Linked DNA regions of Homo sapiens: all the other regions are linked to region 2. Evidence: fine-mapped expression QTL. A gene starts in region 2. Each other region holds a variant in brackets. All regions are shown on one strand. Distances are between the middles of the regions.

Evidence for each region. PIP is the estimated chance that this variant, and not a neighbour inherited with it, causes the effect.
Region 1: its variant is fine-mapped to the expression of SEC16A in whole blood (TOPMed, PIP above 0.99).
Region 3: its variant is fine-mapped to the expression of SEC16A in fibroblasts (GTEx, PIP 0.92).

Annotation. Positions count from the first base shown.
Region 1 is chr9:136,511,485-136,519,636 of GRCh38, forward strand. It overlaps NOTCH1 (notch receptor 1), which reads right to left. Exons shown (of 34, transcript NM_017617.5): 5 at 7,959-8,081; 6 at 7,107-7,340; 7 at 6,653-6,808; 8 at 6,268-6,453; 9 at 5,788-5,901; 10 at 4,497-4,610; 11 at 3,999-4,232; 12 at 3,806-3,916; 13 at 3,026-3,218; 14 at 1,908-2,053; 15 at 1,537-1,650. It overlaps MIR4673 (microRNA 4673), which reads right to left and starts at 8,142; the gene lies at 8,084-8,142. The region is part of intron 1 of LOC124902310 (a long non-coding RNA gene); the gene reads left to right. The variant G/A (reference allele first, on the strand shown) is at 4,531.
Region 2 is chr9:136,478,530-136,486,700 of GRCh38, forward strand. It overlaps SEC16A (SEC16 homolog A, endoplasmic reticulum export factor), which reads right to left and starts at 4,511. Exons shown (of 32, transcript NM_014866.2): 1 at 4,409-4,511; 2 at 180-301. C9orf163 (chromosome 9 putative open reading frame 163) reads left to right here and starts at 4,966. Exons shown (of 1, transcript NR_172629.1): 1 at 4,966-7,538. RefSeq lists enhancers at 3,659-4,404, 5,150-5,894 and silencers at 4,134-4,453, 4,684-4,793, 4,864-5,043, 5,194-5,623.
Region 3 is chr9:136,426,385-136,434,555 of GRCh38, forward strand. INPP5E (inositol polyphosphate-5-phosphatase E) reads right to left here. Exons shown (of 10, transcript NM_019892.6): 3 at 7,653-7,750; 4 at 6,771-6,895; 5 at 6,572-6,691; 6 at 6,095-6,202; 7 at 5,440-5,601; 8 at 4,618-4,733; 9 at 3,893-4,029; 10 at 2,235-3,423. The coding sequence ends at 3,291. Among named protein-coding and RNA genes, the nearest start is that of INPP5E, 9.4 kb to the right of the region's middle. The variant C/T (reference allele first, on the strand shown) is at 3,844.

The DNA of each region.
Region 1 (8,152 bases), 33 kb after region 2:
GCACAAATGTCACGCTCAGAAGCCACCCCTCATTCCCGGTTGGCAGCGGGGCACAGCCTAGGCCTCACCCCACCAGGCGTGCCCAGGAACAAGGACTGCACCAGGAGAGGCGGCCTCAGTCGGGTGGGCTCCACGACACTGCAGGGACCTGGGCCCACCCCGGACGCAAGCCCCCTCATCTCTGGGTGACGAGGAAAGGCCCTGGCCTGAGACCGAGGCCTGAAACTAATCCTGGGGCTCCGTGTCACAGGCAGCAAACGCCCATCACGGGAGGCCAACAAACAAGGGCTGCGATGGAGGGGACAGGCCCAGGCCCCCAGCACATCCTGCGTGTCGGGGCACGGGGCACGGCCTGGAGACCTCCAGGGCCACGCAGGGTGTCTGGCAAAGGCTATGTGGGAACCACGTGCACAGCCGAGGGCCTTTTTCTGCACAAGCCCATGGCCGAGCTTCCTGTTTATAGCCGTGGGGACTGCGTTATCTTCCCTGTCCCCCATTATCTCCCTGGCCTGCTGGGGCGACTTTCCAGGGCCTCTCTTCCTATTGGTTTCCACGGTGACCCGGGCAGGCAGGAACTGCGCCAGAGTTTCCGACAATTGTGCGAAAGGAAGCAGGAAGCGGGCAGATAGGAAGCGGGTCAGCACCGCCGCTCCTCCTGCCGGCCCGATCGACGTGTCTGAAAGGGACAGGGGCGCCCAGCCGTGGAGGGAGGGTCCTCACTGACTGACACAGGAGAGAAAACCCAGGTCCTTAACTTCGGTCAAAGAAAACAGCGTTCTGGCCACAGGCTGCTGGATGTCATGGGAACCGCAGGCGTGGGACCTCCAGCCCGGCTGCCTGGCCCAGGCAGGCCCTCCCTGACCAGGCCCCGTGGCAGCACCCTCTGCCCGCTCCTGGGGAGCGCCAGGACCCCGGTGCTTGTGGACTCTTCTTTGTCTTTTCTAGAGGAGATCATTTCCTGTGATCCCCTTGGCTGGGTTCATAGCAGGGGCTGGACAGTTGGGGGAACATCCCCCTCCCCGCTCAGCCCAAACAGAGGGCTCCTTGTTCCGCTCACACAAAGAGAGCCCGCCATCAAAGGAATCCCTCAGGTCCGGCTGGCGGGGGTGGGGAAGCCCGGCCCCCAGAGACCCCAGCAGGGTGGGCGCCGGGAGCACGGAGCCCAGTGACCCAGGCCCGGCCCTGCTAAGGATTCACCTGCATCTTACCTGTGTCTTGCGGCAGGCTTGCCAGGTAAAACACATGCTTGCATGAAAATTTTCTCCCAGGCATCCTGTATCTTTGCTAATCTGCCAACCCCACCCCCGGGAGAAGGCCCACATACTGCAGGGGCCTAAGGCACTCAGTGAGGCGCAGAACCTTCTGGAAGGCCCCGCCCCAAGAAAGCCACCACTTTACCCTCCAGTCACGGCTTCCCAGGCCGCCCCCACCCCTGGCCCCACCCTCTCCAGCACAGGCTCCGCCCTCTCCAGCACAGGTCCCGCCCCTCCCACATAGGCCCCGCCCCCTCCAGCACAGGCCCCACCCACCCCTCACCTGTGTAGGGCAGCAGGCAGTTGCACTTGTACCCGGCAACGTCGTCAATACACGTGCCCTGGTTCAGACATGGGTTGGACGCACACTCGTTGATGTTGGTCTGGCAGTTGGGACCTGGAGGGAAGGGGACAGCACTCGGCATGTCCAGCACTCCCAGGCACCTTGGCAGGGCCCCACAACAGCAGCCCTGGGCCTGCTCCCCACCCCAGGCCCCTCCTCATCTCCAAGAGCCAGAGGCCTGGAGCTAAGGCTTTGCCACGGGAGGGAGACACCATGCATGGTGCTGGCTGGACCTGGGTCCCGATCCTGTGTCTCCAGCTCCCCAGACTCGAGGGCGGCCCTCTGCACTGAGAAACGCGCAGCCCACTCACCGCTGAAGCCCTCCCGGCAGGTGCACACGTAGCCACTGGTCATGTCTTTGCAGGTGCCGCCGTTGACACAAGGGTTGGATTCACACTCATTGTTGTTGATGTCACAGTTGGTCCCACTCCACCCAGGGTCACAGTCGCACTTGTACCTGCAAGGGGGACCACACTGCAGGTCGAGGGAGGCCCGAGCAGCACGGCCGGGGCCTGGGCACTCCCGGGTCTGCAATGCCCTATGGGCTGGCGGAGGTGCCCATCCACTCAGACTCGCAGAGTCCTTTAGTGGGGGCAGGCTGGGCGCTGTGGCTCACACCTGTAATCCCAGCACTTTGGGAGGCGGGGGTGGCTGAGTCACTTGAGGCCAGGAGTTCAAGATCAGCCTGGCCAACATGGCGAAACTCCCCCACCCCATATATACTAAAAATACAAAAATTAGCCAGGTGTGGTGGCACATGCCTGTAATCTCAGCTACTCGGGAGGCTGAGGCAGGGGAATCACTTGAACCTGAGGGGTGGAGGTTGCAGTGAGCTGAGATCATGCCATTGCACTCCAGCCTGGACAACAGAGCAAGGCTCTGTCTCAAAATAAAGAAAAAAGTGGGGGCCGCAGCGCTTCCCATACCCAAGACTGCGGCAGGGGTTTGGTTCATTAGCGAGGGGACCATGCCAAGTGCAGGGCAGTAGGGTGCTGCGAAAAGCCCCCCACCACTTGCCCGCTGTGTGGCCCCGAACAAAGCACGTGCCTTCTCTGCGCCAAATGAGGGCAATGGGGTCCCTGCTGATTTAAATGGTCCCATCCAGGCAGAGTGCTGCCAGGCACATCATGGGCATCAGAAACACTTGCGGCTGTTACCATGGAAACGTGTTCCAGGGTCACTGTGGGCCTGTGTCCTGAGCACACCATGCAGCCCACAAGGACACGCAGCACACAGCTGCTGGGTGTGGACTGTAGTCTGACTGAGGACCCAGAGGCATGTGCGTCCCCGAGGGGAGCTCCCTGCCACCCAGCCCCGTCCGAGGCCCGTTTCTGGCCCATCTCAAGCTCTGTGCAGGTGCCACCCTCCTGGCAGCAGAGCTCCCAGGGTTTAGGACTGATGTGTCCCCATGATCGGCCCCGCCGCATACCCGTTGAGGCTGTCCCGGCAGGCCCCGTGGACGCAGGGGTTGCTGTTGCACTCATTGACCTCAGACAGGCAGGTGGGGTCGTGGTAGCCCTCGGGGCAGCGGCAGGTGAAGCCATTGATGCCGTCCTCGCAGGTGCCCCCGTTGTGGCAGGGGTTGCCCGCACACTCATCGATGTTGATGTTACACATGCTCCCTAAGGGCAGGGCGGGTCAGACTCCGAGGCCCAGCGCCCAGGGGGTCCCACCCACGTCAACCTCGATTTCCCTGTCTGTTGAGCCGGGGCGATCACCCTTCTGGCCACATCCTTCCAGGTGTCAGAAACCATCTTGGATCACAATGTGCCATGTGCCAGCCTCCCCGGGCACCAGTGCCCACTCAAGTCATCCTCCCAGGGGCCCCAGGGGCAGGGGCTACTGCAGCCCTGACTGATGAGAATCTGAGGCCCAGAGAGGCAGAGGGACCTGCTCAAAGGTGCTGGTGAGCCACAGAGGCAGAAGGTACTTAAGCCTGGCCTCAGGGCTGGCTGCTCCCTCTTGGCCTGCTGGGCCACTCTGCCAACACGGCCTGGGACAGCTCTGACCGGAGACAAGAGGGGTCGGGGGGACCCATCGTGCTGCCAGTTATAGCCCTGGTCCCGCTGCAATCTCTGCTGCAGACCACGGTCTGCCCAGGTGGGCAGCACCAAAGCCCTCACCCAACCCCTCAGCAGCCCCAGGGCAGAGTGGCTGACCTTGACCTCTGAGCACAGTGCAGTCAGCCCCCACGTGCAGGGCCGCTCACCTGTGTAGCCCGGCTCACAGGCACACTCGTAGCCATCGATCTTGTCCAGACAGGTGCCCGAGTCGCAGGGGCTGCTGGCACAGTCATCCAGGTTGATCTCGCAGTTGGGTCCTGAAGGGGTGGCACGTGTCGGTCAGTCCTCAGGCCCGCCCTGCCCACTGGCCCCCCGCCGGCCACCCGCCTGGCCGGCCACCTGTGGTCCCCTTCAGGCAGAAGCAGAGGTAGGCGTTGTCGCGGTCCTGGCAGGTGCCCCCGTGGCGGCAGGGCTGGCTGGAGCACTCGTTGATGTTGGTCTCGCAGTGGTGGCCCGTGTAGCCTGGGCGGCAGAGGCAGGTGAAGGTGGCGACGCCGTCCTTGCAGGAGCCGTAGTGGCAGGGGTCGGGGTCGCACTCATCGATGTCCACCTCGCAGTGCGTCCCCGTGTACCCTGGACCGTGGGAGGGGCGGGCACAGGAAGACTTAGGACTGGCGGCCCCCGGGACACCCATGACCAGACCTGGGGTCACCTGTGCCAACCTGAGGAGGGCTCCGAGCGTGGCATTCCCACCTACTCAGGATTGGGGCTGAGCTGTGCTCTCGGCCTCTGGACCAGGTGGCCCAGACCAAGGTGTCCATGACCTTGTCAGTTTCACTGCCCTGAGTGCCCTGTCCCGTCCCCAGTCCCTCCCCGCTGGTGGGCGCCAGCCCGCACCTTCCGTGCACACACAGGTGTAAGTGTTGGGTCC[G/A]TCCAGGCACTTGGCACCATTCTTGCAGGGGGTGCTGGCACACTCGTCCACATCGTACTGGCACAGATGCCCAGTGAAGCCTGGGGCCGGGGAGGGGAGGGGAGGGAGTCATGTGCAACAGCACTATGGCCCTTCAGGGACCCCTGGCCAGACCCCAGCAGTGAGCGCCTGGCTGGGCTCCCCAGGGCACACTCAGCCTGAGCTCAGCCAGCTCCAGCTCTCCCTGCCTCCCGCTGCCCGCTCCCCGGATCAAAGCCCCTCCCCCAGCACCACACGCCCTCGCTCCCACAGAAGGGGCCTTTTTCCCAAACCGACTGGGTTGCTATGGCTACAGTGGAGCCGGGCTGAGAATGGGGCTCCCCTCGCTCCAGTGTCTGGGACGGGTAATCTATGTCTTGGGAGCCTAGGCTTGGGCTGGCAACGCCTCCCTGGGCTCTGCGCCCCGGCCCCCAGCTCTGGGACAGATGGAAACACCTTTCACCCAGGCCCCTGAGAGTTCCTCCAAGTCCGCCCCGGGCAGCCATCATCTCCATTGCAGGCCAACCTGCCCCACGTGGTTCTCTGCATACCCTTGTCGCTGGCGTGCCGTTGGGCAGGGGACATGGCAGGACAGGGCAGGCTGGCCTCCCTCCCAGCATCGAGCCCTCAGAAAGCCAGGCTGGAGCCTCCTCCCTGTCTGGGCACTGCAGCTCCTGGTATACCCTTCTCTCCAGGCAGAAGGGGCTGCACCCAGATCAAGGAGGATCTCCTGGCCCTGGGCTCCACCGCGACCCCTGGGCAAGCTCCCACTCCCCACTGGGCCCTGCCCTTCCTTCGGGGAAGTCTGAAAACACTCCCATCCACTCATGAGGCAAAACCCTCGCTCTCCTGGGAATCTGAACACAACCAATGGCCAGGCCCCCCTCAGAAGGCCGGGGTGCAGACGGCCCAGGGGCAGGGGACACAACCTACGGCCAGGCACCCCTCAGGAGGCCGGGGTGCAGACGGCCCAGGGGCAGGGGACACAATCCACGGCCAGGCCCCCCTCAGGAGGCCGGGGTGCAGACGGCCCAGGAGCAGGGGACACAACCCACGGCCCTCACCCCTCAGGAGGCCGGGGTGCGGACGGCCCGAGGGCAGGGGGTGGGGGCGGCCCTCACCCCTCAGGAGGCCGGGGTGCAGATGGCCCGGGGGCAGGGGACACAACCCACGCCCAGGCACCCCTCAGGAGGCCAGGGTGCAGACGACCCGGGGGCAGGGGGCGGGGGTGGCCCTCACCCGTGGGGCACTCGCACTGGAACTCATTGATCTTGTCCAGGCAGCGGCCATTGTGCAGGCAGGGGCTGCTGGCACACTCGTCTGTGTTGACCTCGCAGTGCACACCCTCGTAGCCTGTGGGGTGGGGCAACAGTGAGGGGGGCACGCGCGGCCCCAGTGCCCCACTGGGCACAGCTGTGGACTTGGGACAGAAACGAACCCTGCCTCCAGCCCAGTGTCCCAGCCACCACGGGCCCCCTGCGCACCCGCTCCCCTGCAGCCCGTGGCCCCTGGCCCGGCACCCTCATCTGCCTAGCACTGCCCCCGTGCTCTGCTGGCCCTGTGGCCTGGCCTCAGTTTCCCCATGCCCTGTGCAGGCTGTGGGCCCAGAAGGCATGGAGGCTGGGGAAAGCGGAAGCAACCCACAGATGTTCCCGGGGCTGCCCCTCCAAGGCTGCCCAGCCTCGACTCGGTTTCCCGCCCTGGCCCCGGCCGACGCACCGGGCATGCAGATGCACTGGAACTCCCCAATCTGGTCCAGGCAGGTGGCGTCGTTCTGGCACGGGTTCGAGACGCACTCGTTGACGTCGATCTCGCATCGGGGGCCCGTGTAGCCCTGCAGACACTGGCACTCGAAGGAGCCCAGCGTGTTGATGCACTTGCCCGCATGCTCGCAGGGGTTGGCACCTGGCGAGGGCACACGGGTGAGAGGCTGCTCCAGGCACCCTGGCCCCTGCAACACCTCACTGCACACCACCCCCATCGGACTGGCAGGGTCCCATCCCCCATCTAACTGGGCACCCCCTGAAGCCAGAATCGACTTCTCATCGGTTCTGGGGCCAGGCTGCCACCCCCACCTGGCCGCACCCCCTGTGCTGGCACCTACCCAGCGAGCACTCATCCACGTCCTGGCTGCAGGCCGGGCCCGTGTACCCCGAGGGGCAGGTGCAGATGGCCTTGCCATTGACAGGGTTGGTGTCGCAGTTGGAGCCCTCGTTACAGGGGTTGCTGATGCATGCGTCGTTGAGGTGGCACAGCAGACCTGGGCAGGCAGCGGCGGTCAGTGGGCACGGCCCCTGGGCCAGGCATGGCACACCACCCACGGCTGGGGTCCAACCCCACTGACACCCCAGGAGGAGCTGCCCGCCGTGACCCCGTCGGGCATCCCGTGACACTTGGGACGTTCCGGGGGACTCACAGCGACCACCGGCCTCCCTGACCAGAAAGGCCCTTTCAGGTTATCCTGGGTGCAGGAGGGCCACAGTCCCTGGGTGAGGTCACACAGCTCAGGCCTGGCCCATGTGAGCCCCCTGCGCCCACCTGGGCCTCAAGGCACTCACCTGTGCGGCCATGGGGACACTCGCAGTAGAAGGAGGCCACACGGTCATGGCAGGTGGCGCCGTGGAAGCAGGCGGCGCTGGCACAGTCATCAATGTTCTCGCTGCAGTCCTCACCAGTCCAGCCGTTGACACACACGCAGTTGTAGCCACCGTGGGTGTTGTGGCAGGTCCCGCCGTTCTGGCAGGCATTTGGCATCAGCTGGCACTCGTCCACATCCTCGGTACAGTACTGACCTGCAGGGAACAGGAGCTGTCGGCCCCGGGCAGCTGCCACTCCCTGAGCTCCCTGTCCCCTAAGACGCAGGGTGGCAATGCCGCCCCCTCCAGGAAGCCTTCCTGGGCTGACTCCTCCACCCACCGCCAGCCTAAATCACTCCTTCCTCTGCAGGCCCAGCACCATGGAGTCTTGCCTCCTCTTTGTGCTCTGTGGACACTGCTGCGTCGGGGTGCACCTTTGCCCGTCACCCCACCAGAGGGTAATTCCCGAACACAGGGCCTGTCTGTTCATCCAGGCATCCCTGTGACTGGCCCAGGAAGCGTGGCCTGAGTGGGGTGCTGAAGGCCCTCAATGCCAGGACACCCCACTGGGCACAGGGGCTGCCTGGAGCCAGGTTGCAAACGGCCCACACAGACCAACCAGGGCCCTGTCTGTGCTGACCCCCGAGGTGAGGGGCACCAGACCCTGGCCACGGGAAGTGGGGCCCCCATCATGTTGTCCTTCTCGGCCAACCCTAGTCTGCCTGGCCTGGGACAGGGTCTCGGCTGCTCCCCGCTATGCCTGTGAGTGCAGTTTAGTAAGTGGGTAGCAGCCCCGCCCCGGCTACCCCGCCCTGCGGCGACCCGTATACGCGCCTGTCCACTCTGGCGGGCAGCGGCAGTTGTAGGTGTTCACGCCGTCCACACAGGCACCCCCGTTCTTGCAGTTGTTTCCTGGACAATCGTCGATATTTTCCTCACAGTTCTGGCCGGTGAAGCCTGCCGCAAGAGGGGCCGGGTCAGCCTCTTCCCTGAGGTCCAGTCCGGCTCCTGCCTGGACCCCCGACACA
Region 2 (8,171 bases):
TATAGTTATAAAAGCTGCAAAATAGGCTGGGTGCAGTGGCTCATGCCTGTAATCCCAGCACTTTGGGAGGTCAAGGTGGAAGGACTGCCAGAGCCCAGGAGGTCGAGACCAGCCTGGGCAACATAGCAAGACCTTGTCTCTACAAAAGAAGAAAGTTAGCCAGACATGGTGGCACACACCTGTAGTCCCAGGGACTCAGGGGGTTAAGGAAGGAAGATCACTTGTGTCCATGAGTTCGAGGCTGCAGTGAGCTATGATTATACCACCGCGGTCCAGCCTGGGCAACAGAGCAAGACGGTCTCTATTTTAAAAAAATAAATAAATAAAAAGTGACACAATCATTTTTTTAAAAAGCACTGCAAAATAAATATATTCATCTAAATGCCTTTTATCACACCTCTTCATAGGTCTCCGTTTTTGTACTGTGACTGGCTTAAGGTCTGAAAGGACCACCAGCAAGATGTTACCTTTGAACTGGAGCCGTAACTGTGCCTGGAATGGAAACTCCCAGGAAACTTAAAGCAGCTTTACAAGGCACAGACTGGATTCCAACACTTTCAACAACAGGCAGAATTGCCAAGAAACCTCTTACAGAAAAGAAAGGGGCAAAAACCTCCATCAGTTTTTAAATAAAACATAGTAGATACAAACTTGAATAGTTAACCTGGCCTCTTAAGGCAAAAATTCAAGGACTATATCTTTAGGAAAGTTCTTTTCTTTCTATCAGTCTTTCTTCTTGTCAGCACCACCCTCATGAACAAACAGATAAGTTTAGCCAATCAAAGGAAAAATTAAACCAAAGGGGAGGACTCTGTAGTTTAATCCACACATTTTTTTTTTTGAGACGGAGTCTTGCTCTGTCGCCCAGACTGGGGTGCAGTGGTGCGATCTCGGCTCACTGCAAGCTCCGCCTCCCAGGTTCATGCCATTCTCCTGCCTCAGCCTCCTGAGCAGCTGGGACTACAGGCACCTGCCACCATGCCAGGCTAATTTTTTGTCTTTTCAGTAGAGATGGGGTTTCACCATGTTAGCCAGGATGGTCTTGATCTCCTGACCTCATAATCCACCCGCCTCGGCCTCCCAAAGTGCTGGGATTACAGGCGTGAGCCACCGTGCCTGGCCAATCCACACATCTTTGCAGATGTATATTATTTTGGTCTCTTGGAAATCTTTCTGATATTCAGATAAAAGAAGAAAACACTGGCCAGGTGCAGTGGCTCACACCTGTAAGCCGAGCACTTTGGGAGGTAGGAGGACCACTCGAGTTCAGCAGTTTGAGACCAGCCTGGGCAACACACAGCGATACCCCATCACCAAAAAAAAAATGCCGGTCGTGGTGGTGCGTGCCTGTAGTCCCAACTACTCGGGAGGCTGAGGTGGGAAGATCGCTTGAGCCAGGGAGGTTGAGGCTGCAGTGAGCCTTGTTCAAGCCACAACACTCCAGCCTGGGCGACAGAGTGAAACTGTCTCAAAAAAAAAAAGAAGAAAACACTGATCAATGTATTTTAAGTCAAGCTATTTACTAGGAACAGCAGCAAAGGCTTCATGGAGGTTTTAGGCTCTCATCTGAAAACAAAGAATGTTCACAGCTCTATTTTATATGGACTGAAAGGAGAACAGGCAGAGCATCTTCCTCTGATCTGTGCACTGGCATTATCTTCCACTGGGTCCTACCAGCTGCACAGCCACAGCAGACACAGCGACACCTGCAACCACGGCCAGAACACGCAAACTTCCAAGCACCTCCTGAAACTCTGCTGCCAGAACTGGGGTCCTACCTCATCTCTCAAGACATGGCCTTCCCCGGGAAGATCCTTATCATCCTCAAAAGCTTTTGTTTGCTTTAAACACAGAGCACGGGCCTAGAGGTTTATTCCTTGGCTGCTGCTGTGAGAGCAAAACTGAGTGTCCAGGTGAGTGGCTCGAGGCAGCCACTCCTCTTTCTGCAATGTATTTTTGTCTATAAAATGCGAGAATCGATGTGATTATTTTTTCCTAAAAAACCCGGGTTTAATCTTATGAGATTCTACTCACAGTGGATTCTGGGATGTCCTAATCCCACCTGCTGTTTAACAGGGGTGGCCGGGCACGGTGGCTCACACCTGTAATCCCAGCACTTTGGGAGGCCGAGGCGGGCAGATCAAGAGGTCAGAAGATCGAGACCATCCTGGCTAACACGGTGAAACCCCGTCTCTACTAAAATACAAAAAATTAGCCGGGCGTGGTGGCGGGCGCCTGTAATCCCAGCTACTCGGGAGGCTGAGGCAGGAGAATGGCGTAAACCTGGGAGGCGGAGCTTGCAGTGAGCTGAGATCGCGCCACTGCACTCCCGCCTGGGCAGAGCGAGACTCCGTCTCAAAAAAAAAAAAATTATTCCGCAGCTCTCCTAGACTAAGAGCTTTTTTATGGCAAACATTATCACTTACAAGGAGCATTCCAACCTTCATGCTCCCTAATTGAGAGCTTTTTAGCAACATGCCACTTTCATTTGGAACAATCTTGTGACTTGAACTGATTTTTTTGATCTTTTTCTCTACTCACCAGGAGAAAAACAATGCAACTGCCTATCACCTATGTCACCACTACAGGGAATTTTATTCTTTTTTTTTTTTTTTTTTTTTTTGAGACGGAGTCTTGCTCTTTCACCCAGGCTGGAGTGCAGTGGCGCGATCTCGGCTCACTGCAGGCTCCGCCCCCCGGGGTTCACGCCATTCTCCTGCCTCAGCCTCCAGCGTAGCTGGGACTACAGGCGCCCGCCACCTCGCCCGGCTAATTTTTTTTTGTATTTTCAGTAGAGACGGGGTTTCACCGTGTTAGCCAGGATGGTCTCGATCTCCTGACCTCGTGATCCGCCCGCCTCAGCCTCCCAGAGTGCTGGGATTACAGGCATGAGCCACCGCGCCCGGCCCAGGGAATTTTATTCTGTAACCTCAAGTCATCTAATTCTTTTATTGTTCCAAAGAGGCCAGCTGATCTTGAAAATGCAGTATTCATAAACCTAGCTAGTCAGTTAAACTGCCTTGTAACCATGTGGATACCTAAGCAAAACTCTTTTTAGTACAGTTCTGGCTACAGAACTGAGGCATTTAAAATGCATGCACACCCCTCTCCTCTTGCTGCCACTGGCTTCATATTTTAAGTGAGGAAAACAATAGTGTGCCAGGAAGCCCCTGAGTTTACCTACTGCCTACAGTCTCCCTCACGGTGGCTGCTAGTGACGCCCTGTCAGACTGTGGGATGCTTGACACAAAGACATGATCAACTCCAACTCTTCTAAGTTAGAATCGCAACCACATACAGTTAGATGTTGAAGAGGAAGCCAGCGACAGAGGAGGCCAGCAGCCTAACACTGATGAAAATGACGAAGACCCTGGTATTCATGAAAGATGCTTACAGAAGAAGAAATCACATTAACATTTACCCACTACCATGACCTCTTGCTGGATTTGGCAAAAAAAGACAAAGAAAAAGAAAAAAAAAGTGCCCACTGCCTCAAAGAAAACTTTAAGTACAATTTTGAGACTCACTGTAGTAACCACTATTAACAGTAAACGAGGAACAAGGAACAAGAAAGACACGCTATTTTGCCTCTTGTCTACAAGATACCAGCACCTGAAACTTAAGAAAGGGGATGAGGAAAAAACGCAGGGAGGCTGCATTGTGCTGAAACTTGCAAAAGTATCACTTCTAGGAAGAACCGTCTGCGGTTCCGTTTGCTTCGTATTGCCACATGGGGGATGGGAAATACCTCTTTGGTTAACATCGGCATCACACATGTAAAACAAAATCTTAATATACAATCCACACCCAACTTACAAGCCATTTAAAAGTGTTCTTAAGCGGCAAAAACTGACTTTAAATGGCTCTGATGTTTCTGAAGGCTCTACTGTAACACTTCCATCACAAAGGGGCGAGCCGGATCACACACACTCCTCTAACCCTCGGCCTCTGTTGCAACATCCTGATCGCCCAATCAAGAAATTACAAACAAACAACTCTGCTCTTTGGTTCAAATGTAAATGTGTCTCTTCACCAGCATCGCTAAGGAAGCCTTCTAGCCGGTGAGGACAAGACACGCTCATTTGAAAAGTTAAGAGTCTTACGAGGGGTGCCTGGGGGTCCAGCCTCCCGCCCCGGGAACCGGCGTCACCGCAGCCCAGCCGGGTCCACGTCAGTCCCTCGAGTCCCACGGCGGCCCGCGCCGCGTCCGGCCTTCCGCTCTGGCCCGGGGGCCCGGACGTCTGTCCCCTCGACCGGCCCCGGCGGGACCCGAGATGCACCGCCCGCTCGGGGCTGGGCCCAGCCGCCTCCTCTCCTCCGCGCCCCGACCTCCACGGCCTGGCTCCGCCGGCCGGCCTCCGCCTTCCTCCTCCCGCGCTCGCCCCCTCACCCGCGCTCGCCCCCTCACCCGCGCGGCTGAGACCGATCCCTCAGGAGCCGCGGGCGAAAGCCCACCCGACGCTGGCGACGAGCACAGACACCTCAGCCGCCGCAGCCATCTTGGCACATCCGGCTCGGGTCTCCGCGGCCGCCGCGCCGCCGACGTGTCCGGCTTACGACATCAGCGCGCGCCCCGCCCCTGGCCCCGCCCCTCGGCTCGTCGGCCCAGACGCGTTCTCTTTCAGCCCTTCACAGCCCATCCCTCGGCCCCGCCCCTCGCCGGCGTCCGTCCTCCCCGCCTCATCCCTCTGTCCCGCCCCCTCTGCCCCCGCCCCTCGCCGGCGTCCGTTCTTCCCCGCCTCATTCTTTCGTCCCGCCCCCCGCCCGTCTTCCACGCCTTATCCTGTAGTTCCCGCTCCCCTTGGCCCCGCCCCTCTTCCGTCGTTCCTCGCCTCATTCTTTCGTCCCGCCCCCTTAGCCCCGCCCGTCGTCCGTCTTTCTCCGCCTCATCCTGTCGTTCCCGCCCCTTTGGCCCCGCCCCTCGGCCGTCCTTCCCCGCCCGTGGCCCCGCCCCCCTCCGGCGTCCGTCTGCCGCCTCACCGCTTGGCCCCGCCCCTCGCCACCTGCCCGGCCAGGCGCGCCGGGGCCGTCCCAGTACGTCGCCCTGTTTACGCTGGCTCTTTCTCCCAGTCTTTTTTCGTTTTAAGATGTGAGAAGAGATGGGATTCTTCAATCAAGGCCACAAGCGGGAAATCAGTCTGCAGGACCGATGCCAGCAGGCTCACGCACCGAGAACGGCTACTCCGCCCAGCTGAGAAGCGCGGGGCCCTGACGCGGGCGCGCTCCTCGCATTCTTCCGTTGGGCTGGGAGGCTGGAGGGCAGGCGGCGGCGGCCGCGCATGCGCCGGGAGCGGCCGGAGCTGCGGGACGCGGAGGGCCGACTGCGCCTGCGCGCTGGTTGCCTGGTTACGGCGTGGCCGCGGGCACCGAGCGGCGCCGGAAGTTGGTCGATGGCTGCCGCCAGTCCCTGGCCAGCGTCCTGGGGTTTCCCCGACGCATCCTCTACTGTCCCTTCGCTCTGCACAGAGGCCCGGGCAGGGAGGGGCGGCCCGGCCACCGCGCGGAGCCGGGTGTCCGCCGACTCGCAAGGGGGACGCGCGGGCTCCTCGTCCCCAAGCTCCGCCCTGCGCCTTTGCTGCGCCGGGCCCTCCCAGGCCCACCCTGGCCCCAGCCCTGCTGTCCTCCCGGGGAGGTGCGGCCTACTCGGTTCGTTCCCCCGGCCGCCAGCCCCACAGGGGCGCTGGGGTCCCAGCCTTGGCTGAGTGCACGTCGGTGGCGAGTGGGCCCGGGCGCTCGGGCGGCCAGAGCGACCCAGCGGAGGGGTGAGGCGGGTAGGCGCTCCTGTGCCTGCCACGGCCAGGCCAGGCAGCATCCACGCCCTCCCGCGGAAGATCGCAGGGAACAGGTGGGCACTATCCTCTGTGCCCTCATTTTTCGGAGGAGCCGAGGGAGGCTGAGCGGTTGAGGAAGCGGCCAGCCATGCCGGGCCCACTCACCTGCACACCTGCCTGGCAAGGGCAGGGAAGAGCCGCGGCCTTCCTCTGCTGCTCCTTCCAGAGGGCAGGCGCCGTGGTGGGGGTGCCCGCCCGATGGCATCGCGGGAGGCTGAGCTCCCAGCAGCGGCTGAGGTCCTCCCTGGGTGGGAGCCACCCTTGTCCCCAGCTGGGCCGGCGGCTGGTGAGGGAGGGGGTGATATCCGTGCCACGCCAGCAGGGCCGCAGGCGGTGCAGGGAGAGCTTCAGTCCGGCTGACGTGGCACCAGGGCCAATCTGCTCAGCTAACATTTGCCTTTCAGGAGTCAGATTCCTGACCTGTTTGAACAGAGTTAGGGAGCACGTGGTAGGGCCCAGCCCCAGCCCCGCTGCCCCCATCTGCTTCTTCCCAGTGGTCGAGGCGCTCTGCACCCTCCGCGGAAGGAGGTGTCATTGTTTGCCCTTTCCAAAGAGGGGGATGCAGAGGTGGATGCTGCCTCTCAGGCGTGGGGCTCGCCTTTTGCCGCTCGCGAGTTCAAAGAACCCAAGAGCCAGGAGCCCAGGGCTCGACCCTCTAGGGTCCTCCGAAACCCTGTGGTCCCACCGGGGTGGGCACTAAGCTATGGGAGAGACCATAGCTGCAGAAACCAACCCTGCCCTAGGCATAAAATGCAAGGTCTCTGGACCTCAGGGCAGGGATGTTAGACAGCGGCTTCTGTTGGCTCCTAGGGGTGTGAATCACCACATCACCTGCAGGGGGCGCGGCTGTCTTTCTTCCCCCTCTTCTCCCTAATCCTGAGTGCACGGAGACAGCTCTCAGCAGTTTGTAGCCTGATGTGGAGTGGAGGGTTCCTGCACCCTACACCCGAGCCCATCCAGCCTCTGGGCCATAGACCCTTCCGTTGAAGGCCCAGCCTGCCCCTGAGACGCTGTGTGCCCTTTTTCAACTTCCTTAGTCTCTGAGCATCAGGTCTTCATCTCTAAGATAGAGCAAGATGAGCACCTAAACGTTTCAGGGCTGAAATGGGGTTGCCAGGACAACAAGCATGGCAGGGGCGAATGGGGACATCAGGTGACTGACTGCGAGCCAGCAGAGGCCTCCACCCAGTGCTGGGAGGTGTCCCGCCGGTGGTGGCCATCACTATTCCTGGTGGGGCTTTGCTGCTTTTGCCTGCAGCATCCGCTGGTTTCTCCATTCTCCAAGTCTCTGCCCCTGCTCACACCTGGAGGCTGGACACAAGTGTCACCACTTCCCTGAACCCCCCTAGGTGGGCTGGAATCAGCATCTGGTGCAAAGCTCTGTGACCACTGCTGTACCACATTATGCAGAGCACACAGGACAGGCTGGTGCACCTCCAGGCTGTGCCAGGAAACCCGCTGCCTTTGCGTCACCACAGCCTTGGTCACAGCGTGACCTTGGTGCCTCCGACGGGTCAGCTCCTCCCATTAGCCATGCTGTCCAGCACGGGGGCCGCTGGTGCTTGCTGTGAGACTGAGCTGGGCTCTGAGTGTAAACTACATGGTAGGTTGTGAAGGATGCAAATATCGAATCAATCATTTTTTATTGCATATTAAAATGACAATATCTTGGATGTATCAGATTAAACAAAATACTATTTAATTTTATTTCACCTGTTTCTTTTGTTTTTGACATAGCTGCTGGGAAATGTAAAACTCCACATGGGGCTGGTGTTACATTTCCACTGGACAGTGTTGGTCTAGAAGGCAGGCACTCAGCACCCCTAGCCTGTGCTTATAGCCTCCTATGATAGGGGCCTGAAATGCCAGAGGCTGATGGGTGGACCTGGCTCTTTGCTGACAACTGGCGGGCCAGTGGCGGTCCTCCAGGGAGCCCCCAGCAGAGCAGCAGTCTCAGTGAACGCAGGACGGCCCCTCACTGTGAGCTTCTGCTCCTCTTTCCTACCTGGTGTAAAATAGCAGTGGCGAGTATGTCTGGGTGCTTGTGGAGGTTTACTGGGCAGGCCTGCTCCCTGCCGGACACTGTCCTCAGCCCCTGACACAGACCCTTAGTCCTGGACGCTGAAGCTGGAGGCTTGGCCTGGAGAGAGGAAGGGGCAGTCTCTGTGAGACGGTTAGCTGGGTGGTCCAGGCAAAAAAACATATGAAGGCCTCCAAGGTGGAGAGCACTGACACGGAGCTCTTCCTGGAGGAGGAGGGAATAGGGCTGGGAAGCTGGAATCAGGGGAGAGGAAGCAGATCTGGAGGCAGGGTCCGTAGAGTTTGTTCTGTGGCGTTTGT
Region 3 (8,171 bases), 52 kb before region 2:
ATCCACCCACCTGGGCCTCCCAAAGTGCTGGGATTACAGGCGTGAGCCACCGCACCTGGCCACGTTTTTTTTTTCTTTTGCCAAATTTAGCACTGGAGGATAGGATACCAAAGTTGACACTAATATTAGGTTCTAAGAACCCACTACTATCGAGCCAGCTTTTTTTTTTTTTTTTTTGAGATGAGGTCTGGCTCTGTCGCCCAGGCTAGCCCTGGAGTACAGTGATGCAAGCACAGCTCACGGTAGCCTTAACCACTGGGGCTCAGCGGATCCTCCCACCTCAGCCTCCTGAATAGCTGGGACTATAGGCGTGCTCATTGCTGTTTTAGAGGTGTGGTCTCACTAGGTTGCCCAGGCTGGTCTCGAACTCCTGGCTTCAAGCAGTCCTCCTGCCTCAGCTTCCCAAAGTGCTGGGATTATAGATGTGAGCCACTGTGCCTGGCCGTATTTAACAATTCTTTTATTTTCCAGAGATTGGCCAACATCATTTGCATTCATTTAAACTCCTTTCTGAGTGAAATTCCATTAATCTAAGATCTAGCGGTGAGTGCCAAGGGAATCACCTGACTTTCGATCCATGATCTTACTAGACACGTCATATCCTGCCCTCCCCACCGCCGCCGCCGGAAGACTTGGAGCCTCTTACTGTCAAGCCACGTGAACACACTCCAGGGTCGGACCAGAATCTCTTTAACAATTGTTTGGGTCGGAGAAGAGGCCTAGGAAGAAGCCATAAAAGCGGACTCATTTGAAGCCCCATTACCATAAACATCTTGGTACAGATTTTCAATGAATTAATTTGAAACTTAGGGCACATTTGTTCAGGCAAAGTCTTTTTTTTTTTGGAGACGAGTCTCACTCTTGCCCAGGCTGGAGTGCAATTGTGCAATCTTGGCTCTCTACAACCTCCACCTCCCGGGTTCAAGCAATTCTCCTACCTCAGCCTCCTGAGTGGCTGGGACTACAGGCGCACACCACCACACCCGGCTAATTGTTTGTGTTTTAGTACAGACAGGGTTTCACTGTGTTATCCAGGCTGGTCTCGAACTCCTGAGCTCAGGCAATCTGCCCTCCTCAGCCTCTCAAAGTGCTAGAATTACACCCAGCCCAAAATGTTACACACGCCACACCCAGCCCAAAATGTTATACATACAGGACATCAGACTAGTTGACTGAAATTAGATGAGATTGGCTGTGCCCTCTCATTAATGGAATTTCTATCGACGACTTTTTTTTTTTTTTTTTTTTTAAGGAGTCTCGCTCTGTCGCCCAGGCTGGGATGCAGTGGCACGATCTTGGATCTTGGCTCACTACAACCTCCGCCTCCCAGGTTCAAGCAATTCTCCTGCCTCAGCCTCCCAAGTAGCTGGGACAACAGACACCCGGCTAATTTTTGTATTTTTAGTAGAGATGGGGGGGGGGGGGCGTGGTCTCACCATTTGGCCAGGCTGGTCTTGAACTCCTGACCTTGTGATCTGCCCACCTGGGCCTCCGAAAGTGCTGGGATTACAAGCATGAGCCACCACGCCTGGCCCAAGAGACTCATTTTTATCAAGAGACTGGGTGTTTGTTTCCCTACTTTTTAAGATGCTGCTAATAAAAGTTTTCTATTATTCACTGAATTGTTGATAACCAGCGTGGTTCATCAGGTCTCAAGTATTTGTGTTTTCCTCAAAAGACTCTTTTCCATCTAACGCTGATCTCTTGGGCAGTGAACTAGGAATGCAGGATTTTATGTATTTATTTATTTTGAGATGGAGTCTTGCTCTGCTGCCCAGGCTGGAGTGCAGTGGCGCAATCTCGGCTCACTGCAACCTTTGCCTCCTGGGTTCAAGTGATTCTCCTGCCTCAGCCTCCCCAGTAGCTGGGATTACAGGCGCCCGCCACCACACCCGGCTAATTTTTGTAATTTTAGTAGAGATGCAGGGGTGGTCGCACCATGTTGGCCAGGCTGGTCTCGAACTCCTGACCTTGTGATTTGCCCACCACTCAGATGATCCATCTGCCTCAGCCTCCCAAAGTGCTGGGATTATAGGAGTGAGCCACCGCACCCAGCCGAATGTAGGATTTTAAAGATAGCAGAGATGAACCGGACAAGATCATAGTCAGCTGTTGAGGGTTGAGACCAAACTTTTTGCCTGTGGATTTTACAGCCTTTCAAACAAGGACATTGTGAGAACGGGATATGCATGTATATTGTTGCTTCCAGGTTTCAGTCTTTGGCCAGAAAGAGATTTTAAGACTCAATATATGCATTTATTTAAAAATATAAATATGGAAAAATAATTTAAAAGACTAGATTGAATGTCCCTAGATTTTCACACATTCAAAGACTACATTTTTTCAAGAGATGGAATGGGACACAAAGCAAGAATGAACGGTTCTATACTCTCGAAGAAAGAAACCCGGGACATGGTGGGGATCCCTGGCCTAGGTGTTCAAGGTGGTGGCATCCTGAACTTCCAGCAGTTCCCTAGCCCGGTTCCACTAATGTCATTCCGCGGCTGGAGTTAAAGAAGCAAACGGTCTACGTCACCAAGACCATGAGACGGTTTCAAAAATGGTCTACGTCACCAAGACCATGAGATGGTTTCACACAATAGGCTTGGCCTATGAGAGGAGGGGAAGCAGCTTCTTACTCAGCTGGGGAGGCCCTTATACTGGGGTGCAGGCCTCCTCGCCCCATGGCAGGCGACTTGCAGCCAAGTGGAGGGGAACCGTGCCACGTCCTGGAGGCTGTGTGGCTTCCTCAGCTGGGCTCTGGGGCCCACTCAGAGGTCTGAGGCCCCAGGGGTCACCTAGCCCAGATCCAGCCTTGCTCTGGATACCCGTGTGACATGGGGTGGTGTGTGTTTGAGGGGCTGCCAGGAGGACACAGATGGACGCCTGCTTCGGGTGTGGAGGGAGAGGCTGGTGCAGAGCACGGGGGTGTTGGGGGGCTCTGTGACTGCCCCCAGGGCACAGGAGCTGCTCAGGAACGGATTCTGACGTCTGCCCCCGAGAGTGGCTGGGGTCCGTGGTGCTGCTGGGCGGGTCCAAACCCTGCCACCCATGCTGTATGGACCTGCCATGGAGACGGGGGTCCAAGCCCTGCCCACCCACACCGTGTGGACCTGCCACAGAGGACAGGCTCGCTCAGGGTTGGCTTCCTTCCTGGGACGCTGGCACAGAGGCACGGTCGCCACAGTCCCTCGGATCCCCGAAAGGCGGCAAACTCTTTGTCCTTCCCAGTGGGTTTTGATCAATACAATCACCCCACGTTGCAGCTGTGAGTCCTCGTTCAGCAAACTTCAAGAAACGGAGCAGATGGTGCTGGAGTTCTGACTCTGTAGTGCTTGCTGCCTCTGAATCTCCTTCGAAATCCGTCTTTTAATTCCTAGTAAGTACAGTTCTCTATCAAATTTGCCAGCTGCCAACGGAATGCTGTGGAGGAGGAGGGGGCGTTAGGAGGGCACCCAGGGCCAGGAGGAGGGGGCGTTAGGAGGGGGCCGGCCCCGGAGGAGGGGGCATTTAAGAGGACACCCAGGGCCAGGATGAGGGGCTGTTAGGTGGGCACTGGCCCAGATTGGCCCTGCCTCTAAGCACACGGAGGCCTGTTCCTGGGACAGAGCCGCAGGAAGGACAGGGCGGATGCCTGAGTGCTTAAGGCCTTCGTCCCTCCAGCTGGCCACACCCAGCCCCCCAGCTGGGCCTCTCTTCACTTTCCAGAGCCTCTCCCCTTCCTGCCTTCTCCTGCTCCAGGATGAGTCCAACCGATCCCGGGGAACACAGCCCTGAAGGTCCCAGAACAAAGCCCCAAGTGGAACCCCACGATGACAGGGACCCTCTTAGCTCATGGGACGA[C/T]GGCACGACCCCCAGGCCCAAGGGGGAAGGTGAGCGGGAGAACACTGACTTGTCTCGCCCCGGCCTCACTTTCACCCGGAAGAGGCCATACACAGGGCGGTGGTCGGACGTCTTGATCCCGGGGCAGGAAGAGTAGCTCACAGGACAGATGTCACCCTTGTGGCGGCTTCTGTACAAGACGCGGTCCTTTGGGAAGATTGCAGAGGCAGGAGGTCCAGTTACTTGTGAGGAGCCGTGGGGCGTGGCCCGCTCACCTCCCTGCTGTTCTCAAGCGCCCCCCACAAGGAAGCCTTCTGGGACCCCTGACACTCATGCCCATTTTGTTGCCTGGCGTCTGTGGCCAGCTGGGCCAGGGCCTGTCCCTCGCCGCTGGAGAGACCCTGTGGACAGCGGCTGCTCCTACCCTGCCCTGCCTCAGTGGCTTCTTGAGGCTTCCAGCAGATATCCAGATATCGGGACATGCCCAGAGATGCAGCCATGGGCCTGGCAGGAGGGTGAGCGAGGGTGCAACGGGCAGAGGGCAGAGGCTCTGCAGGCCGGAGGCGAGGGCATGGCTGGTGCCCTGTGTGCCAGCCGGCTCACCCAGCCTTGAAAACACCCATGGAGAGGGCGCCGTTCTCCACCAAAGGGGACTTGCCACAAGGCCAAGGTGCAGAGCTGAGTTTCAAGTCCAGGCCGTCCAGGCTCAGACCCCTGACGCCAGGCATCGGTTCCCGGCTGTGGGAGATGCCTGCCCTGGAAGCACTCTGCACCGCAGCGGTGGGCAGGCCTCACCGTGTATGAGGGCGTCCTCTGCTTGGAGGTGCTGTCGTACGTGTCCTTCCCGATGTCAAACTTGTATGATGGGAGGAAGTGGATGTCCGGCTCCTGGAAGCCCTTGAAGATGGACCCTGCCACAGGATGGGCACTCGGACTGGCTCAGACCAGCTTGTGCCAGCCGCCGCACCCCAGGCCCTCACCTCTCCTCATCTCCCACCACGCCCACCCTCCCCCCACCCGCCGCAGGCCCTCACCTTTCCTCATCTCCCGCCACGCCCGCCCCCCCAGGCCCTCACCTCTCCTCATCTCCCTCCACGCCCGCCCCCCAGGCCCTCACCTCTCCTCATCTCCCTCCACGCCCGCCCCCCAGGCCCTCACCTCTCCTCATCTCCCTCCACGCCCGCCCCCCCAGGCCCTCACCTCTCCTCATCTCCCTCCACGCCCGCCCCCCCAGGCCCTCACCTCTCCTCATCTCCCTCCACGCCCGCCCCCCAGGCCCTCACCTTTCCTCATCTCCCTCCACGCCCGCCCCCCCAGGCCCTCACCTTTCCTCATCTCCCGCCACGCCCGCCCCCCCAGGCCCTCACCTTTCCTCATCTCCCTCCACGCCCGCCCCCCCAGGCCCTCACCTCTCCTCATCTCCCTCCACGCCCGCCCCCCCAGGCCCTCACCTCTCCTCATCTCCCTCCACGCCCGCCCCCCAGGCCCTCACCTTTCCTCATCTCCCTCCACGCCCGCCCCCCAGGCCCTCACCTCTCCTCATCTCCCTCCACGCCCGCCCCCCCAGGCCCTCACCTCTCCTCATCTCCCTCCATGCCCGCCCCCCCAGGCCCTCACCTTTCCGCATCTCCCGGATGAGCTGGTCGTGCTGCAGCAGCGCCGGCACGTCCACCACCAGGCCCTGGCACAGGAGGGCGTCCACGACTGTGCGCCCGCCACTCAGGCGGAAGTTGAAGTCTCCAAACCAGAACACCTCATCGAAGCGGGTGGTGACGTCCGCTGCGGCACAGTGGGCCATGTGTGGGCACAGGCAGAGGGACGGCAGGTCCTTCCCCTTCCCCAGAACATGGCCTGGGAGTGGCTCTCAGGGGAAGTGGGTCTTGGGCGCCAGCCGGTGGGGCCGGGCCCTCAGGGGTGGGATTCGCACTGGGACAGTTCCAGAAGGCACCTGGAGCAGCCTCAGGAGCAGACGATGCCCATGGCAGGCGATGGCCACGTCCCTGCTCCTCTCCACACAGCCAGGGGAGGCGGCGGGGCGGGCAGTGGCGAGGACCAGGACCCAGGCTAGTGGGCCACGCCGAGTGGACAGGATCCGCCCACCCCACTAACCGTGCTAAAGAACCGCGAGGGGCCATGCGCTGGGGGCACTGGACGTTTCGGCCCTCGCTTCCCAAAGCTCAGGACGCTGCCTCTTCAGAACTGCCCTAAAAACGACGGGCGCCCGTGTGCGAACCACGGCGGCACCACCCACACGCAGCGTGGACGCCCTCACCTGCGCTGGAGCGATAGGGGTTGGTGTCGGGCACATTTCTGGGCAGGACCAGGGCTTGTACAGTCCTGGTGTAGTCCAGCAGCCGCTCCGCCACCTTCCCGTCACCTGCTGTGGGAACAGAAATGGGGTAGGGACCACAGGGTTCCGGATGCTCGAGTCTCCCTAAAGCGCCGCACCTCTGGACTGTGCCCTGACTGCGCACCCCCGGCAGACGCAACCCCACCGGGCATCCGCTGCCGGGCCCAGCCAGTGACATTTCCGCCTCGGAGGACAGAGCACGGGCCCAGCACGGCACGCCCTCGGTGCCGGGGTCTGCCGGGGGTCCTTGGCGTGCATCTTAGCAAGCGTGGTGCCCACCCCACGGCCCTGGGTGGAAGATGAAGCCAGCGGTCAGGACCCCTGCCTTGGACAGGGTCCCGGTCAGGAGAGGAAGCTGTTCTCACACAGCACCTGCGGTGCGGGCACCAAGCAACTTACAGGTGAAGTGGGACGTGATGAAGAGGAAGGAAGTGCCAAAAAAGGTGAAGCTGATGCCCAAGGCCCCCTTGGTCTTGATCTGAGACACGATGCGTGTGGTCACCGTGGAGCACTCCACCTCTGTGGGAGGGGCAGCCCTCAGCTCACCTGTGGGACGCTGCCACCTTCCAGCCGCGCCCACCCCTCCAGCCGCGCCCACCTGAGCAGAACCAGATGAGGTCCCTGCGGATGAAGAGCGACATGTAGAGCACGCCGTGGGCCGCCGAGGACAGCAGCACATAGTGCGGGCCCAGCGTCTCCTGCAGACGAGTCTCCCACTCCCGCCTGCAGAGGAGGAAGCACGGCCGGCTGGGGGACATGGCCTCCCAGCTCCGCCACCCCCAGACCTGCTGCCCAGAGCCCCTCGAGGAGCTACCAGGGAAACCCCACGACCTGGCCTTGGTGTCTTGCGCGGAGAAGCAATTGCCAGAAGGCCTGGTGGGCCAGAGTTGGGACCTGCCGGGGGCCACAGGCCCCAGTTCCACTTGAGTGGCTCCCCTGGACCCCCGCCGAGACCCCAGTGAGCAGAGCTCCTCCCGCCTGAGGGACTCATGGGCCAGGGAGGTGGGGCCCACCTCAACTCCTTCCCCCAGAGCACCTGTGTGGGCGGCAGCCACCTGCTGTTCCCGCCATGACATGGGGGCCCGGGAGGCCTTGGGGCCCGGCCCTGCTCCGGCTGCCCTTCTACTCTCGCACGCCAACAGTTTGTTACCAAAATCAAATCTCATTGATTTTAAACTCTCCGAGTTGCCACTGGAAAAAAATCTGACCCATGCCTCCCACCCAGGCGTGGAGGCTGCCCGTGCCCGGCCGCCACCCGGGTCTCAGCGCCCAGCAGCTTCAGAGACGGCAGCCCCCGGGCAGGCACTGCAGATCTGTGCCCGGCCACGAACCGGGTATCAGCGCCCAGCAGCTTCACAGATGGCAGCCCCCGGGCAGGCACTGCAGACCCGTGCCCAGCCATGACCACAGGTCTCAGCACCCAGCTGCTTCAGAGACGGCAGCCCCTGGGCAGGCACTGCAGGGCCTGCAGCCGCCCTACCTGTCAGAACAGCCCTCCTGGACCCCGATGACATACAGGTCCTGGGCATAGTCGGCCTCGGCTGGGAGCAGGAACTCGTCCAGGCTGGGCGGGAGCTCCTGGAAGGAGGGAGCATGTGGTGGGCCGGCTCCTCCCGAAACCTGCAGGCGCCTGTGGGTGAATCCCACTGCGGTGCCTTGAGTACCAGCGACTCCTCCGAATGAGGGGAAACTGAGGCCAGGGCCAAAAAGGGAGCTGCCCGGTCTCCGAGGCAGCCTCTGACACACCAAACACGCCTCACGTTGGCCCTCGGCCTGTTTCCCTCTCCAAGCACGAGTCTGTCCAACGACCACCCCTGTATGACCCTCCCGTCACCATGACCCCAGCCCGTGCTGCCCACCCTGTCCCTGAGCCACCCCTACGCGTGCCCCGCTGGCCGCCCTCCCGCTCACCTTGAGCAGGTGATTCTCGGCCAGGCCCGTTGCCCCAACCCCCTCCCCTACTTTCTGCAGCCACGTGGCCAGGGAGGTGCAGGTGGGA